2 linked regions of the Homo sapiens genome follow. The protein of the gene in region 1 interacts with the protein of each later gene in a pairwise test. Each region holds a gene or a part of one and is shown in the gene's direction. Other genes may lie near its edges. The genes, in order: ZFAT and YY1AP1.

The links.
Region 2: the proteins of ZFAT (region 1) and YY1AP1 interact in a two-hybrid assay, tested with the Homo sapiens proteins (one large-scale study listed by BioGRID and IntAct).

What each region holds. Positions count from the first base shown.
Region 1 is NC_000008.11:134,604,925-134,608,747, reverse strand, and holds part of ZFAT (zinc finger protein ZFAT), read left to right. Parts: coding exon 1-19; intron 20-3,823. UniProt on the Homo sapiens protein: May be involved in transcriptional regulation. Overexpression causes down-regulation of a number of genes involved in the immune response. Some genes are also up-regulated.
Region 2 is NC_000001.11:155,674,979-155,678,801, reverse strand, and holds part of YY1AP1 (YY1-associated protein 1), read left to right. Parts: intron 1-2,055; coding exon 2,056-2,254; intron 2,255-3,705; coding exon 3,706-3,792; intron 3,793-3,823. UniProt on the Homo sapiens protein: Associates with the INO80 chromatin remodeling complex, which is responsible for transcriptional regulation, DNA repair, and replication. Enhances transcription activation by YY1. Plays a role in cell cycle regulation.

The sequences.
Region 1 (3,823 bases):
AACCAATGAAGTCAAGCAGGTAAAGTGTTTTGTTCTGTGTAACTTCAGCCAGAGGTTGCATGTGAGTGAACTCCACAGAGTGCAGGAAGGATCAGCATGCTTGTTCGTTTGGATTCTGCTTATAAACTTGTTTATAAGAGATACTGACTCCTTGATTCAGCAGTAGAATTACCCCTCCATGGCAGCCCTCGGTGTGCTCGCTGAGCCTCCAGTGTGTTGCAGAGTAGCATGTTTTTAGAACTGAGCACCAACTGGCTTAATGAAGCCAGAGCATTTTATTTAAAGAAAAACTATTTTTTACCTTAATAAAAAGAAATAGAAACATAGCTTAAGTAAAGTTTTAGACATTTATAGCTTCACTTACTACCGTTTAGAAAAATATTTATTTCCTTCCCACTTTCAAAAGTAACACAAGTGTGTTGCAGAAGGCTCACATGTCCCATATGATGTGGCATTAAAGTAACCTAGAGTTACTGTTTCTGGAGGTAGTTTAGTTCATGTGCTTCTACAAGTTTTTTGAAATATACTAACATATATTGGTTTAATTTTGTTGTTTTTTGCAAATACTAAATACCAAAAGTACTGTTTTCAACTTTTTTTTAAAAGCTTACTACACCTTGAAAGTCTTTCATTTTTAGTACACAGTTTAAAAAGCTGTGTTTGCTATTATGTGGATGTATTTTAGTTTATATAGCCAGTTTTTACTATTACGGACAATGCAGTGATTAATGTTTTGGTGTATACATCTTTCCATACTTCAAGACCTCCTGTGGAATCCATTGCTAGAGTTGAAATTGCTACAGCAAAGGATATGAGTGCCTAGTGCTTAACTGACATTAAAAACTGTCCTCCAGATACACTGGATCAGTTGACCACCCATAGCAAACCAGTGTGTTTCTCTACAGTCTCCCCAAATTGTCTGTCTTTAGCCTGTACCTGCTGAAGTCAGTTAACAAACTCTGATCCCCAGAGGTCTGAAAACATTTCTCCCAGCTAGAAGGAAAGACAAAGAAAATGCCAGTTGCCAGTGGTTTTCCTCTGTTTCTGGAAGAAGAGAAATGGGGTGTTTTTGAGTAGAACATAAGCTTCAGAATGAAATAGACCTAGGTTGGCTCTAGACTACTCTGTATGAGTTCAGCTCAACAAATTGAACACCTCTTATGTGCTGGGCACTGGTGATATGACAAAGAATCAGACAGTTGCAGCCCCTGCCCTGATGAAGCTTACACTCCATTGTAACTTGACACACGTTACTTTGCATCTAACATTTGTTGCACAATTTTAAGACTGTCTAATAGAATTTTAGTTTAGTAGTGAGAATAAGAGATAAAATATGCAAAGTGCCTGGCACATGTAGTGCTCTCATTAAATTATATTATTATATCATGTGGTATGCTTCATTAATTTGTAGCTTCAATCCTCTATTCTTGTAAATGTGAACAATTGAATTTATTGATGAAGTTGTAAAAATACTCATTCCTTTGGTGAATTCATAATAGAATTAAGTCTCTAAAATCATTCTGTGTTTCAAGTCAGGTTGATTTGTAGACCTTAATTAATTATCTTCACAATATTTCAAGGTCTGTTGGCGGGGAGGTTCAGCTAAATGTTAATCTAGTTACAGGTAAATACACTGAATATTTAATCAACAGATCTAGGCTATATTTTTGTTGTCATGCATTCTATTAATATTTTATTGTGCAAATTATAAGATAACTATAAAAGAGATGTTTTTGCGTAAGGATTTTACTTTGTAAAATACAGATAAAAACTTTTAGGTTATATAATTCTTCTCTCATAACAAATGATACAGAGTTATTATATAAAAAATTTTGGAAGTCCAGAAAACTGAGGGAAAAAAAGTCATTTATGATCTTATTGCCCAAAGATAACCACTTATTATTTTAAATGTGTTTTCTCCCAGCCTTTTTTTCAGCATGTGTATTTTATAAAATTGAGTTTATATTTTATAGCGATTTTGTATCTCACTTTTTAAAACTTTTTTTTTTTTTTTTTTTCTGAGACAGAGTCTCACTCTGTTACCCAGGCTGGAGTGCAGTGGCACAATCTTGGCTCACTGCAGCCTCTGCCTCCCAGGTTCAAGCTATTCTCTTGCCTATTCTCTTGCCTCAGCCTCCTGAGTAGCTGGGAATACAGGTGTGCACCACCACGGCCAGCTTTTTTTTTGGATTTTCAGTAGAGTTGGGGTTTCACTATGTTGGCCAGGCTGTTCTTGAACTCTTGACCTCAAGTTATCCACCAGCCTTGGCCTCCCAAAATGCTGGAATTACAGGCGTGAGCCACTGTGCCCGGCTGTCACTTTTTAAAACTTAATCACATTACATTTATATGCCTTTGTACTCAAATGAATCACAAACATTTTGCTTTATAGCAACAAGGCATAACTTCATGAGGATATAGTGTTATCAACTCAACTCTTGACATTGGAGCCAACAAGATCTTTTAAAAATGCTCATCTGATTGTTACCCTTTTAGGCTTTGTCTTGCTCTTAGGGGTGCAGGGGGCTTCCAAGACTAGCCCTGCCACCTCTGAGGCTTGTCCACCTGCTGTGGTTCCCCAGTACTCTTGCTGCTGCCATCTGTTCCAGCCATCTGGGCCTCTTTTCACTTCCTTAGTCTCTTATTGCAGGCACCGCTTCCTTTTCCTGGATGCCTTTCCTCCCTCTTGCTTAGTTAATGCTTATCTGTCCTTCAGCTTTCTGCTCAAATGTCTTGTCCTCAGGGAGGCCTTCCCTGTCCCTAGACCAAGTCAATCTACCCTGACTGGACTCTCAGAGTGTCCGGCCGTTATCCTTCTCACAGGGAGCCTGATGGTCCTTGTCTGCTTACTTTTATATTTAGTACGTAGGCTGGCCTATGGCACTTTCTGGAAGGTGAGCTCCAGAGGGCAGGGCTGTGCTTGTTTTCATTCCCTTTTGTATCCTGAGTACCTGGAACACTTTTTTAAGGGAATGAATAAGTGAAGAAAGATAAACGTGCAAACAAACTAGTTCCCTATGTTGGTACCTTCGAACAGCTTCCCATTCTTAACTATTGTGGAAAATGAGCCATGAGCACCATCATCTGAATTTTGTATTCTTTCTTTTGGATAAATTCCCATAAGTGGAATAACTGGATTAAGGAGTAGGACCTCTTAAAGTTCTGCTGGATTTCTTTCTTTTTTTTTTTTTTTTGAGATGGGGTCTGGCTCTGTGGCTCTGTCTCCCGGGCTGGAGTGCAGTGGCGCGATCTGGGCTCACTGCAAGCTCCACCCCCTGGGTTCACGCCATTCTCCCGCCTCAGCCTCCCGAGTAGCTGGGACTGCAGGCGCCCACCACCACACCCAGCTAATTTTTTGTATTTTTAGTAGAGACGGGGTTTCACCGTGTTAGCCAGGATGGTCTCGATCTCCTGACCTTGTGATCCGCCCTCCTCAGCCTCCCAAAGTGCTGGGATTACAGGCGTGAGCCACTGCGCCTGGCCGGATTCCTTTGTAAAAGCAGTGGTGAGAGTACCTCTCTGAGGAGGCAGCATTTGGAATAAAGTGACTTCATAGAACTCGCATGGACATCGAAGCTCTGGCATCAGTTCACTGTCACAGTCAATGACTTGGACTTAAGGGTCAGATGGAGGCTGTGTAGCATCCTCATCAGACTCACTATCCTCGAGGGGAACCTGGGCACTAAGGGCTTTACCAGGTATTTGCCTAATAATACAAAAAGTCAGAGCAAAAGATTCTCCTAAGACCATTTAGATCTTGCAGTAGAGGAGAAAATATGCAAAGTCTTGATTTATTTATTTAATTAATGTTATGAATCCAGGG
Region 2 (3,823 bases), on another chromosome or scaffold:
TTGTGCCATAAGTGGAACAAAGCAAAGAGAATAGTCCCTGTAATTAGTCCTGTGTTTGAACTTAACAGCACTACTAAGCAGAGAGCTTGGGTTCCATCTGAAAGCTAGACCTTTAGGGATTTTCCAATTTAGTGAAAAAAGATAAGATAGGCCAACCAATGTCTTAAAAACTAGAACTACTAGTCATTCTCCATTACAACAAATATCACAATACAACTACATCAAAAATCTCAAGATTGCTAAGTCAGTATTTGACCCATTATTTTAATTTATAGTTCATAGAACAAAATTCTGGTATAGCAGAATGGAACCATTCATCCTGGGAACGTATAATAGGATCTGATTAATAAATATTTTGGTTTTGCTGATCAACTCTTTATAACTTCTTAAAATTTGGAAAATATAGAACTAATTTAAAATTCCTGTTAGAATCCAGTTACCTTCTGGTATTCAATGGAATATAGTCATATATCATCTCATGGTCATACCCTCTGTGAAATCTATCATTAAACGATTCATCATTGTGTAAACATCGTAGAATGTACTTACATAAACCTAAATGGTTTAGCCTACTGCATACCTATTGCTCCCAGGCTACAAAACCTGTACAGTGTGTTACTGTACTGTACTGAATACTGTAGGCAGTTGTAACACAATGGTAAGTACATATGTATGTAAACATAGAAAAGGTACAGTAATCTTATGGAGCCACCTCTGACTATGTGGTTCGTTATTGACTGAAACATTCTGTGGCGCATGACTGTACTTGGGCAGCTTCTGCTTCTCTTTCGATTGCAAATACAAACCTGTTTTTGTTTTAATCTTTGACTAAATAAAAATCCCTCTGTAAGTCCATAGAGAGTAAGCACATCTTAAAACACAATAAGGAAGAGAGAGGAGAAAAAGACAGTCAAAACAAAAACTCTGGGGCTTCCCTTATCAATTACCTAAATAATCCTTGTTAAAACTAAGTGCAGGCTATGTTTCCATTTTCTACTTTTTTATGCTTCTTCTCTTCTGTTCCTTCAGTGGTGGTAGCGCGGATGTTCAAATTTTCAGTTCTCAGTAAAGATTGTATAGACAGTCCCACGGTCTTCAGGTTTTTACTCTGTGCTACCCAAACCTACAGTAAATACTATAAAAGAAAACTTATTCAAACGTAATCTTTATCTGCAAAAACTATTGAAAAACGTTACCATTTAACTATTGCTGTAATATAGGGGGTTCCTTGAAATATGATAACCTGCTTGTTATAGCTACTTCAGCAGATCTTATCCTGTTGCATAGGGTATCAGCATATGCTTAATCATTTAGGTATATTATTCTCCCTTTATTTCTTTCTATGTAAACATAGAAAAGGTATAGTAATCATACATAGAACTGACATGCTAGGTATTGGAATTTTTGCTTCAGCCCTGCAAACAATCTTTCAGGAGGGTATGGATGGGAAGTTAGGGTTAGGAACCTTGGAAGAGGAATTTAAAGGGCTAAAAGAAGATAGCCTTCATGGATAATATTTTAACTAACTTCTCCGTTCTGTTCATTTGAACTACCATGTACTTCAGTTATTTTGGTATATCCTTTTCCTGCTTCATGCTAGAAAGTCTTTGACTTGTTAAGAAAGCAGGGCAGTGCAGCCTGAGTAGATAGGATAATGGGACAAGCTGGACCTGGGATGGGAGTAACATCCCAGGGAGTAACAAGTAATGAGAGAAGAAATGAGAATGATGAGTTCCCACCAGCTCCTTGGCTGCTTTCTTACCCATATATTTCTCTGTCCCTAGTTTTTTGTTTAATTTTTTCTTCATTTGTATATTATTTGGAAGAGGAATTGTAGAGGAATGGGATGGGGTGTAATACAGAATCATTTGATGCATGCTAACTACTTTGGGAAAAGATTTGTGTAAGGCTGGGAGTTTGACTGTTGGCTAAAGTGAAAAGGGGGGATTAGTAGGGAATGAAAATTGTTCAGGCTCTTTGCTCATCATTGCAAAGAATTGGATGTGTTGTGGACCTAGGAAAACACTCAAATTCAGTCATCCCCGTTTGGGATAGGTTTGAGGAACTACTGGCCAACCTACTAAATGAACAACATCAGATAGCGAAGGAACTATTTGAACAGCTGAAGATGAAGAAACCTTCAGCCAAACAGCAGAAGGAGGTAGAGAAGGTTAAACCCCAGTGTAAGGAAGTTCATCAGACCCTGATTCTGGACCCAGCACAAAGGAAGAGACTCCAGCAGCAGATGCAGCAGGTAACACTTTCCTTGGTCATATTAATATTGAATTATACCAAGGCCTAACTCTGAGGCTTTGGTATAATCTAAAATTAGCAGCTTTGTAAATGTCAGAGATAGTTACCTTACTACGTATTAAAACCGTAGTATCTTCACATCAGTTAGGAGCTTGAGAAGTCATCATGTTCATGTCCTGTGGCTCAGGGAAGACAGCACATAAGGACCCTAATGGTATTCGGAATTACAGATTTCAAAGAGTCCTCAGTAATCTATTCTGAAATTTAACCTTCACTGTGACAAGTAGTTTTTTTTCCCTTTTCCCTTTTCTTTTTTCTTTTTTTTTTGAGACGTAGTCTCGCTCTGTCACCCAGGCTGGAGTGCAGTGGCTCAATCTCAGCTCACTGCAAGCTCTGCCTCCCGGGTTCACGCCATTCTCCTGCCTCAGCCTCCCGAGTAGCTGTGACTACAGGGACTCGCCACCACACCCAGCTAATTTTTTGTATTTTTAGTAGAGACAGGGTTCACTGTGTTAGCCAGGATGGTCTCGATCTCCTAACCTCGTGATCCACCCGCCTCGGCCTCCCAGAGTGCTGGGATTACACGCGTGAGTCACTGCGCCCGGCCTTTTCCTTTTCTAATCTCAGTTCCTCCTCTGTTTAGAGGTTAAACTTCCTCTGGTTCTGTCATTTTGTTCAAGGGAACATGTCTGAGAAATTTATGCCAAGATCCTACGTTGTTCTCACACTCTTTGCAGAAAGCAAAATTTGTGTCATAAAGTTGCAAACATCTTAGTTAATGACTCTCTGGTGGCTGGGTGCAGTGGCTCACACATGTAATCCCAGCACTTTGGGAGGCTGAGGTGGGAGGATTGCTTGAGCAGGGGAGTTCAAAAGCAGCCTGGACAACATAGTGAGACTCTGTCTCTACAAAAAATAAAAATAAGGCTGGGCACAGTGGCTCACACCTGTAATCCCAGCACTTTGGGAGGCCAAGGCGGGTGAATCATGAGGTCAGGAGTTTGAGGCAAGCCTGGCCAACATGGTGAAACCCCGTCTCTACGAAAACAAAAAATTAGCTGGGTGTGGCGGCGGGCACCTGTAATCCCAGCTACTCGGGAGGTTGAGGCAAGAGAATCACTTGAACCTGGGAGGCAGAGGTTACAGTGAGCCGAGATCACGCCATTGCACTCCAGCCCAAAAGTCAGTGCGAGACTCTGTCTAAAAATAATAATAATAATAATAATAAAATAAATTAGCCAGGCATTGTGGTCACAGCTACTTGGGAGGCTGAGGTGGGAAGATTGCTTGAGCACAGGTGGTTGAGAGGGCATTGAGTCATGGTTGCACCACTGCACTCCAAGCTGTGTGACAGAGCAAGACCCTGTCTCCAGGGGGAAAAAAAAATATCTCTGGGCTCCTGAAATGGCAGTGTCATAACATATCACTGCATTATTTTCTTTCTCTCCCCAGCATGTTCAGCTCTTGACACAAATCCACCTTCTTGCCACCTGCAACCCCAATCTCAATCCGGAGGCCAGTAGCACCAGGATATGTCTTGTAAGTTTCCAAATTGCCGTAATTCTATAGA